Linked DNA regions of Homo sapiens. The protein of the gene in region 1 purifies or fractionates together with the protein of each later gene. This does not show direct contact. Each region holds a gene or a part of one and is shown in the gene's direction. Other genes may lie near its edges.

Region 1 (3,651 bases):
TCTCAGCTCACTGCAGCCTCTGCCTTCCGGGTTCAAGGGATTCTCCTGCCTCAGCTTCCCCAGTAGCTGGCATTGTAGGTGTGTGCCCCCATGCCTGGCTCATTTTTGTATTTTTAGTACAGATGGGTTTCGCCATGTTGCCCAGCCTGGTCTTGAACACCTGACCTCAGGTGGTGCACCCATCTTGGCCTCCCAAAGTCCTGGGATTACAGGTGTGAGCCACTGTACCTGGCCTCACTTTTTAAATAAGACGTTCAGTCTCGAAAGAGATTGACTTCTTCAGGGTCGTACAGATAATCATGGATAAAACTAACGATTTGGACTGAAAATTTTCTTGGTGATTCCTTAATGAATTTACATCTTTGCTTTTCCAGCAGTGAAAAGGAAGAAGACGATAATGAAAAGAGACAAGATCCAGGTGATAACTGGGAAGAAGGTGGAGGTGGTGGTGGAGGTATGGAAAAATCTTCAGGTCCCTGGAATAAAACAGCTCCAGTACAAGCACCTCCTGCTCCAGTAATTGGTAATTTTACTATTTCAGTTTCAGAAAGATGTCTAATTTATATATGATTTTATATATGGTCCACTTTCAACTAAGTGCATGATTGTGGTAGGGTGAGGAGGAGAGGCTCCTTTCCATTCCTGGTAGAGTGGGATGTGTATATATCTTGTTAAAGACTTTAAAATCCTAAATAAAAGGAATCTGGAAGTTAAAAGACATGCTTTTGTCCTGTATGTTGCTGTAAAATTTATATAGATATAGACTAGTCGATTCCAGTTTCATTTATTGGAATTGAGCATTTCTTCTAATATTCTCGTTAAATATTAACTACTTGCTAATGGAGGAAAAGGTAAGGAAAAGACTTTAATTTACTAGAATCCAAGGTCAGCTTCATTTAGGATTTTTAGTGGTAACTACCCTAGGGTTGGGTTTAACTCCAAAAGTTTTCATGAGAGAGAAAATTCCTAAAGCTTTTATCATTTAAAATATTTTTGACAGCTGAGTAAAGACAGAAAGACAAGGGGCCCTTGTCTTTCACTTGTGCTTTGTCTTTTTCATTCCCTATTTAACTTTCCTGTTCTTTGAAGCATGAATTCTCAGCAGGGCCAATTTTATCATTCTCAAGGTGGTAAAAGTTGCTTCTTATGGAATGAAGGAATCTTATACCTTAACAGTCATTTGTGGCCCACGAAAAGACTAGAATGCATAAACAGATGTATAGTATATCGCAGTATTAAAATTTCATGGAGTGGGGGGCAGTTAGGAAACAGATGTCTGAAAGGTCTCCTTAGGGCAATAATGAAAGTTTAAGAGCACTACTTTAAAGAAGTGTATACTCATTATTTTATTTAGAATGTTATAAAGAATAACATATCACTCCAAATCTTGTTATGCAGAAATCACAGATAACTACTCTATGTTAAATTTTTATTTTTATATTTTTTAGAGACAGGGTTTCACTCTGGCCCAGGCTGGAGAGCAGTCATGCAATCATGGCTCATTGCAGCCCCTCAACTGCTTGGGCTCAAGTGATCCTCCCACCCCAGCCTTCCAAGTAGACTACCGGGGCATGCCACCTGTTTATTTTATTGTAGAGATGAGATCTTAACTATGTTGCCCAGGCTAGTCTTCAACTCCTGGGTTCAAGCAATCCTCCCACCTTAGCTTCCCAAAGTGCTGGGATTGCAGGTGTGAGTCACCACACCCGGTCTTATGTTTTTAAATCATCTTTAGAATCTTTTTGTTTTGTTTGTTTTGTTTGAGACAGAGTCTGGCTCCTGACTTCAAGTGATCTGCCCGCCTCGGCCTCCCAAAGTGCTGGGATTACAGGCGTGAGCCATTGTGCCTGGCTAGAATCTTTTTTTCTTTTTCTTTTTTTTTTTTAAGACAAAGTCTCACTCTCTTGCCCAGGCTGGAGTGCAGTGGCACAATCTTGGGTCACTGCAACCTCCGCCTCCCGGGTTCAAGCTATTCTCCTGCCTCAGCCTCCCAAGTAGCTGGGATTACAGGCGTGCACCACCATGCCCCGCTACATCTTTGTATTTTTAGTAGAGACGGGGTTTCACCATTTTGGCCAGGCTGGTTTTGAACTGCTGACCTCAGGTGATCTGCCTGCCTCGGGCTTCCCGAAGTGCTAGGATTACAGGCTTGAGCCACTGCACCCAGCCCTGGCTAGAATCTTAAAAAATAACCACACTGGCATTTCATTAAAAAATTCTTTACATATGGCATCTTAATCAGTCCACCAATCAGGTAAAGAAGTAATTCATATTTACTGGTAGGGAAACAGGACTAAAGTCCTATTCTGAGAGGCAGTCCCTGATGAGACCAGTCATCCAAGCCCAGCAGATTCCTTTTCTACTTCCAGTAATTTGGCTTGTGGAACTCATCATTTACGTAGATTACTAAAGTTGTACGTGGAGGAGGAGTTAGAATACTACCCTAGAAAAATACAATGTTTTCACTTTTCTTTTTTCTTTTTTGAGAGCCGGAGTCTCCTTCTGTTGCCCAGGCTGGAGTGCAGTGGCTCAATATCGGCTCACTGCAACCTCTGCCTCCTAGGTTCAAGCCATTCTCCTGCCTCAGCCCCCTGAGTAGCTGGGATTACAGGTGCCTGCCATCATGCCCAGCTAAGTTTTGTATTTTTAGTAGAGACAGGGTTTCATCATGTTGGCCCAGCTGGTCTTGAACTCCTGACCCCAGGTGATCCACCCACCTCGGCCTCCCAAAGTGCTGGGATTACAGGCGTGAGCCACCACGCCCAGCCTGTTTTCACTTTCAGACATTTTCTGAAATGAATTCCCTTCTGTGGTCTGACCCAGAGACCCTGGTATTGTTTTTTCTATAATTGTTAAATGATTGGGAATGCAAGAATAGCTTATTAAAATGCTGAGCATTTAAATAGTTTATCTAAAAATTGTTATAAAATATTAGTTACAGAAACCCCAGAACCAGCGATGACTAGTGGTGTGTATAGGCCTCCTGGGGCCAGGTTAACCACAACAAGGAAAACACCACAAGGACCACCAGAAATCTACAGTGATACACAGTTCCCATCCCTGCAGTCAACTGCCAAGCATGTAGAAAGCCGGAAGTAAGTACTATAATTAATTGCATTTTGTTTGGGACTTCTGTTCCTAGGCCAGGGAGTGGGATATAGGGGATGTGCATACCCACCCAAGGGAGAGACTACTCCTTAACTAATAAAGCCTGAGCTTCAGCTGACAGGCAGGTGAGAATCAGGGTGGGACTTCATATGTCCAGAAGGGAGGAAAGGGGGAGGGCAAAGAGCATTGGAGACACTTTGTCTTCTGTCTGCAAAAGTTTATCTTAGCCCTGGTTTATGTTGTTTTATAGCAATGACAAGTTTTAATGTAGTTAAAATTCTTTTATAATTAAGTGGCTTTTGCTCCTTATAATATGGAAACTAGAAATATAAAAGCGCTGTTTAATTGTATTCCCAGTTAATGTGACTATAGACAGAAGATGTTGGCATTTATAAATCTAATATTAAAATAATCTTATTTCAGCAGGTACTTAAAATGAATGCTACCTGGAATTAAATGACTACATATGGCACATCTACATCTTACTTTAGGGACATGAATTTTTTAAAATAAATAAAATGGGAAGAAATGTAAATGACATCA
Region 2 (3,651 bases), on another chromosome or scaffold:
AGTCGTACCTTATCAGCAGTGTGTTACCCCCAGGCCAGATGACTAAGGAAATCTGTAACCACGACTTTCAGGTTAACAGCATAGTGCTAAGTGAAAAAAGAAAAATGTTAAAACTGCAACTGTTTCCAAGCTTATTCTTAGACGGCCATCTTCCTTCTTTTGGAATCTTTCTGGTACTAGTACTTTTTTTCTCTACAAGTGTATCTCCTCACATATGTTTAGGGAAACCAGAATCCCAAGGATGTGAGTGTTTTGACAGGGTCAAAACTGATTTGGTGCTTTTTAACTAAAATCTTTGGTTATGGGGGTTTTTGGTTTTTTGTTGTTGTTGGTTTAAGATCTTAAGCACAGTTACATTCTGGGCTATAGTAACATCTAGATTACCATGTAACTATTTGCTTAGACATTAAAATATTCAGGAATGAAAGAACTCCCATTCGAACATATGCCAATGAAATGTGTGGAAAGATTACATTTAGTTAAGTACATTTAACTTGGGGCAAGTGCAGCCAGATGGTCCCCTCTATGAGTGTAGGAGCCCGTTAAGTTTAATATGATCTGAAACAACTATAGGTGAGAATTTTTGCATGAGAAATATTTTATTCCGACCCTACAGGGTAAAAGAAGGGCTATAAACTAAAGCCGAAGATATTCAGCAGCTTTCTGACGTGGACATCAGAAGTGTGGACATGAGTGTGCTTTGAGCGCACTGTGGAAGAGCAGTGGTTGTCCAGCAAGGTCCTAGGTGCCTCCGTGGCCTTTCGTACAGTGGGCAAGTTGGGCAGGACTCATCTTAAAAATCATGTGTATGTTATAAATAACAAAATTTATTTATTTATTTTTTTGAGACAGTCTTGCTCTGTTGCCCAGGCTGGAGTGCAGTGGTGCTATCTCGGCTCACTGCAACCTCCACCTCCCGGAGGGTTCAAGTGATTCTCCTGCCTCAGCCTCCCAGGTGGCTGGGATTACAGGTGCCCACCACCATGCCCAGCTAATTTTTCATTTTTAGTAGCGACAGAGTTTCACCATGTTGGCCAGACTGGTCTCAAACTCCTGACCTTTGGCCTCCCAAAGCGCTAGTATTATAGGCGCAAGCCATTGTGCCTGGCCAAAATTTATTTTTGAGAGGCCGGACACAGTGGCTCAGTTCTAGCTTGTTGTTGTTGTTGAGGATTTTGTCATCTGTTTGGCTTTATCTTACTGCTGCTTAATTTGTATTGTATTGCAGGTGGGAACATTCTCCATGGCCAGTGAGGAAGTCTTGAAGAATAGAGCCATAAAGAAAGCAAAGCGCAGAAATGTTGGATTTGAAGTGAGTGCCCCCTTACAGCTCTTGCTATTAAATACTCATTTGATTTCTGGGTTGCACAGCAATCCCTCCGCTGGGAGCAATGATATCAACAAATGCTTTCTTAAAATACTTATTCTTTGATGTAGGTCATGGGAGATAGAAAAAAATAAGAAACGTCAGGTCTGGACCTTAAAGAGAGCTTATCCAGTTGAGGAAATAAGATAAATATAGACAAATTCAAGTTGAGTGACAATCTGGAGAAGAAAAATGAGCAAAGCAATACAGAGGTGGGCGAAGTGGCATCAGATTGGAGGAAGAAAGGAAAACGCAAGGATCTTCTGAGAGTCTTGTCTGCTCCCTGCGATTGAGGCCTTGGTAGGGGGAGCCCTTTCACTATACTAGAGGCATTTTAGGTGTGGATTTTTTGCTAGTATAGTATATTAAAATGATTCATTCCTGTGCTAAGAAGGATGGAAGATGAGTTGTAACTCCTAAATTGAAATAATGTGCTGATTATTAAGCAGTCACTCCGCATCTAAGAACTCGTCCCCAGTACATCCTCTCCCTTCAGATACATTCTAGACCCAGGAGAGTGTGGTCTTGGTGGCCTGGACATCTGGTGTTAGGCAGGAGATGCCGCTTTGAATATCCTGGGTGGCAGCTTTGAAATAAACCTACCCTACCTCACGTTTTGCAGTGTTTAAAACATCAAGAATAGACTATATTCTTGGGTGTCTCTAATCTGGAAATCCAAAATGCTCCAAGATCTGAAGCTTTTTGAGCACCAACGTGATGCTCCAAGGAAATAGTCATTGGAGGATCTCAAATGGTCAGGTTAGAGGTGCCGTGCCAGTAAGCATAATGCAGACTTCCTGGGAGCGGAAATACTTACTTTCCTGAGCGTTCTCCTTAAGGGACATGCAAGCTTATTTCCCTTTTATTTCCAAAAAAAAAGGATAGGAAAGGTGTATCATTCACACTTTGAGAAGCAATGAAAAGAAATTGTTATTACAAAAATATTCATTACATTGCCAAAGTTTTGATCATAAAATGTATTAAAGTTTGAAAACGTAAGGAAGGGAGCCAGGTAGGTGGCAGTGGTGGGGAGGCAGTCAGTAAGACGTTTACAACAGCCAGTCACTCAGAGCGTCTCATAAATGGTGGTATGTGTTAATGGGAAAACAATTCAAATTATAAAAATAAAGTATTCGCAATTTTCCTAAAATATATTACTGTATATACCAATATAGTGTAATTCGAGGCAGAGATACGTAATCCTACATGAAATCGATTCTCAGGTGGTTCTGGGTAGTCTTGAACGTCTTTAGGATGCCATGGCTAATGTCATAAGTGTGTGCTCTTTCTCTGCTCCATTGCATGCTTCAGATGCATGAGAGGAGCTTCATTTCCTGACGTTGTAAAAGCTCTTTCATGTAGAATTCAGGTTAACGGGTTGCACTGCCAAGAAAGGAAGTAGGTACAGAGGAAGCATATCTCAGATCCAAGCTAGAGATTAGGTCTTGTGTTTTGTAATTAATTAATTATATTTTGCTTAAAAATTGTATTTCTTATTTGACAAAAATTATATACTTATGGTGTACAACATGGTCTTATTTTCAGATGCATAATACATTTCTACCTGCCTGTTGTACAGTAAACCTCTTGAACTTCAGGTGTTTTTTTTTTTTTTTTGTCTGGTTTGATTTTATGAATTGCCTTGACTGGTGACTAGGTGGTAGACGTAGGTGTTGAGCTGAGTGATATTTGATGGCTCTTTCACTGGGAAGATACATGGGGGGAGGGACAGTTTAATTAAGGAGGAAATGGTTGGTCTTGGAAATGCTGTATTTGAAAGGCCTTGGTACACTCAAGTGGAGTGCCCTGGAAGACCACTAGGTATACAACAGGAATTATGGCAAGGATGGGCACAGCTCCGGCAGCTTTCGTCATGTGGGGGATTGAGGCCATGGGAATGGGCGACAGGAGGCATGCAGGTGGAGGGTCCTACGAGGAGTGAGAAACAAAGCTCACTGCAGAAGCCAAGGGAAGCCATTCTGAAGGAGGGGCAGTCACCTGTGCAACCGAAGGAAGTTCAAGAGGTAGAAATAGTACAGACCATAATCTACAACTTAAGCTGAAGGGATGAGGGAAGGAGAGGGCAGGAGCCCTTGGGCAACTAAGGGAAATTAAGTGTAGGTGGATAATAGAAATCCACAGATAATTTTAGCTGTAACTCTTAGCCTGAAGTTTTCATATATTAGGACAATTAAATGTCATGTCACCCACCAGAATGCTGAAATGCGGCTTTTCCTAAATAGTGGATTCAGTAGATCTGCTAAGCACTGGAGATGTATTGGTGA
Region 3 (3,205 bases), on another chromosome or scaffold:
CCTGCTGCACCAGGTGCCCTTCGAGATCCCTGAGCGTGTAGCCTCGTGGGGCTTAGGCTGGAAGTTGCATTCTAGCATTCTAGTGTTCAGGAAACATTTTTGCTCCCCAAGTCTTCTGACCCCGGCAGCCTTCAGCTGCCCTGCTGAGGTGGGGCGGGGATGGGCAGTGCCACTAAGCCTGTGTTGTGTTTTGTAGGCAACATCGAAACCAACCATAACCTGCCACCGTCGCACAAATCTCGAAACAACATCCTTCGGTGAGATCCGGGTGTGCGGGCTGGGGGCTTGGTGGGGCTAAGGTGGGGTGAGCCAGTGGAGTCTGGCTCCAGTCAGCCACCTGTCAGGCCTAGCAGCCTCTTTCTCCGTCCCCTCCCAGCACCAGCCTGGACCTCTATGCCAACGTCATCCACTGTAAGAGCCTTCCAGGCGTGGTGACCCGGCACAAGGACATAGACATCCTCATTGTCCGGGAGAACACAGAGGGCGAGTACAGCAGCCTGGAGCATGAGGTGTGCATGGGGGGCCCGAGATGAGCCCCCCCAGCGTCAAGATTAAGGGGAGAGCTTAAGGAACCAGGGACAGGTGTACCCTTAGAGGGCAGGGGCTGTGCCCGAGGGAGAAGCCAGAAATAGGCAGACAGGGTTGCTTCCCACGGTGGCCCGGTCGCGCCAGCTTGTTTGGCCAGTGCTGCTCTTCAGTAGCACATGGGTCTCTTCTCCCCATGCCCTCCTCAGAGTGTGGCGGGAGTGGTGGAGAGCCTGAAGATCATCACCAAGGCCAAGTCCCTGCGCATTGCCGAGTATGCCTTCAAGCTGGCGCAGGAGAGCGGGCGCAAGAAAGTGACGGCCGTGCACAAGGCCAACATCATGTATGTCCCCTGACCTCTCTGCGAGCAGTCCAGAAGCAGCTGCAGTGGCCTGCTTGGGCCTGCTCTGAGGGATTTGTGGTCCAAAAGCCCAGCTACCCACCGAGGTGCCACCCTAGGCGAGTGCCCTGTTGCCCTCGAGGCCTTGCCAGAACCCACACTTAGGGGAGGTGGGGTGGGATTCTGTCCATTTTGCTGGTGAGGGACAGGTTAGAATTCAGACCCCAGCCTCCTGGGGCCCTCTGCACGCCCCGTCCCTCTGGCTGACTGTTGCGATGGCCAAGCTGGTGTCCTATTCCTAACCCCCCACCAGGAAACTGGGCGATGGGCTTTTCCTCCAGTGCTGCAGGGAGGTGGCAGCCCGCTACCCTCAGATCACCTTCGAGAACATGATTGTGGATAACACCACCATGCAGGTATTAGCCTGCCCAGTGCTGTCCCCCTGCCCTGAGTGCCCTGGGCTTCTCTCACCCATGCTTCCGAATCTGCTCCTCAGCCAGCCCCCTCCTTGTCCCGCAGCTGGTGTCCCGGCCCCAGCAGTTTGATGTCATGGTGATGCCCAATCTCTATGGCAACATCGTCAACAATGTCTGCGCGGGACTGGTCGGGGGCCCAGGCCTTGTGGCTGGGGCCAACTATGGCCATGTGTACGCGGTGTTTGAAACAGTGAGTGCCGGTGGCAGTGCCGCGGCTTGCCGCCTTTCTCCTGTTCACAGACTTAGTGAGGCACACTCATCCCATCCGGTTAGCCCGTTCAAAATGCATGATTTAGTAGTTTTTTGGATATCCAGGGTTGTACTGCCGTCACCACCAGGTCATTCCAGAACATTTTCACCACCCCACGAGGAAAGCCTGTCCCCATAAGCTATCTGTCCCCACACCTTCCCCCAACCCCTGGCACCCGCTGGTGGGCTTTTGTCCCTGTGGAGTGGCTTCTTCTGGACGTGTCACAGGAGCAGAGTCACTGCCCGGCATCCTTCTGCCCTCCACCCACTCTCCTTCGTCTTGCCTCCCCAGGCTACGAGGAACACCGGCAAGAGTATCGCCAATAAGAACATCGCCAACCCCACGGCCACCCTGCTGGCCAGCTGCATGATGCTGGACCACCTCAAGTGAGTGGCTCCCAGTGCCCCGCAAGCCCCTGGCCAGCCCTCCGGGCCCCAGGGACTGAAGGCTGGCTGTCCCATCCTCTAGGCTGCACTCCTATGCCACCTCCATCCGTAAGGCTGTCCTGGCATCCATGGACAATGAGAATGTGAGGTTCCCCTCGCACCCTACCCTGCTGCCCCGCCCAGTCTCCCCCTGCAGCCTCCTGTAGCCCGCCTCATGCACTGACCACAGCCCCCAGGGGAGGATGGTACTGGATCTGGCCCCATCTTCTGGCCCTTAGCTGGTGCCACTTCCCTCCTGTGGCAATCCCAGTCCTGCACGTCACAGGAGACAGCGGGGGGTGGCAGGGCCTGGTGTGTGCCGAGCCTGCCTGTGTCCTACAGATGCACACTCCGGACATCGGGGGCCAGGGCACAACATCTGAAGCCATCCAGGACGTCATCCGCCACATCCGCGTCATCAACGGCCGGGCCGTGGAGGCCTAGGCTGGCCCTAGGACCTTCTTGGTTTGCTCCTTGGATTCCCCTTCCCACTCCAGCACCCCAGCCAGCCTGGTACGCAGATCCCAGAATAAAGCACCTTCTCCCTAGACTTGGCGTGGGCCTCCCTCACTCCAGGCACCGATGTTCAGTCCACACTTTATTAAGAAAGGAATACACACACTTTCTCCGAGAGCCCTCACGGGGGTCTCAGGCAGAACACGCTCTGAGAGCCGGGCCTGGCTCCAGCGTCTCTCTGCCCTGTGGTTGTGGAGAACTGGCGCCCAGCAGGGTGGTGGGAGCTGTCCCGCTTTTCCCTTAAGGCACGGAGAGCTGGAGGTGGAGCCACAGCCGGGCCTAGGGGTTGAGCCAGGGGTGCTGGAGGCAGTCAGCGGCACTGGCCCGCTTTTCGGGGATGTACTCCATCATGGGCAGCAGAAAGGCGCTGAACTGTGTGGCCTGCTCTAGGGGCCACTCGTACTTTTCCATGAGTACCTCGTACAGGCCCCAGTGCTTGAGATTGTGGATGTGCCGCAGCTCTCCTGCGGGCAGGCCAGCGGGCGTCAGGCTCTGTCCCTGTCTCTGGACCTGCCTTCTGCTTAGGCCCTGGCTCCTGGGACCCAGTGTTCCCTCTGTTGCAGAATCCAAGGTCCCCGTCCCACCCTCCCTGCAGCCACATGGCCTGAGGCTGCCCGGGCCCTCACCTCTCCGGTTGAAGAACTCCCGGGAATAGCGGCCTGAGAGGGCGAAG

The links.
Region 2: the proteins of CDV3 (region 1) and NUP50 fractionate together in Homo sapiens (co-fractionation; one large-scale study listed by BioGRID). This does not show direct contact.
Region 3: the proteins of CDV3 (region 1) and IDH3G fractionate together in Homo sapiens (co-fractionation; one large-scale study listed by BioGRID). This does not show direct contact.

Annotation. Positions count from the first base shown.
Region 1 is NC_000003.12:133,583,628-133,587,278, forward strand, and holds part of CDV3 (protein CDV3 homolog), read left to right. Parts: intron 1-374; coding exon 375-523; intron 524-2,935; coding exon 2,936-3,095; intron 3,096-3,531; coding exon of another isoform or gene 3,532-3,547; exon of another isoform or gene 3,548-3,651.
Region 2 is NC_000022.11:45,170,372-45,174,022, forward strand, and holds part of NUP50 (nuclear pore complex protein Nup50), read left to right. Parts: intron 1-616; exon of another isoform or gene 617-806; intron 807-1,228; coding exon 1,229-1,312; intron 1,313-3,651. UniProt on the Homo sapiens protein: Component of the nuclear pore complex that has a direct role in nuclear protein import. Actively displaces NLSs from importin-alpha, and facilitates disassembly of the importin-alpha:beta-cargo complex and importin recycling.
Region 3 is NC_000023.11:153,785,127-153,788,331, reverse strand, and holds the end of IDH3G (isocitrate dehydrogenase [NAD] subunit gamma, mitochondrial isoform a precursor), read left to right. Parts: intron 1-196; coding exon 197-257; intron 258-376; coding exon 377-509; intron 510-734; coding exon 735-868; intron 869-1,178; coding exon 1,179-1,281; intron 1,282-1,384; coding exon 1,385-1,531; intron 1,532-1,882; coding exon 1,883-1,977; intron 1,978-2,059; coding exon 2,060-2,120; coding exon of another isoform or gene 2,121-2,183; exon of another isoform or gene 2,184-2,358; coding exon 2,359-2,460; 3' UTR 2,461-2,564; downstream 2,565-3,205. Other genes in the region: SRPK3 (SRSF protein kinase 3), read right to left, coding at 2,812-2,996, 3,159-3,205. UniProt on the Homo sapiens protein: Regulatory subunit which plays a role in the allosteric regulation of the enzyme catalyzing the decarboxylation of isocitrate (ICT) into alpha-ketoglutarate.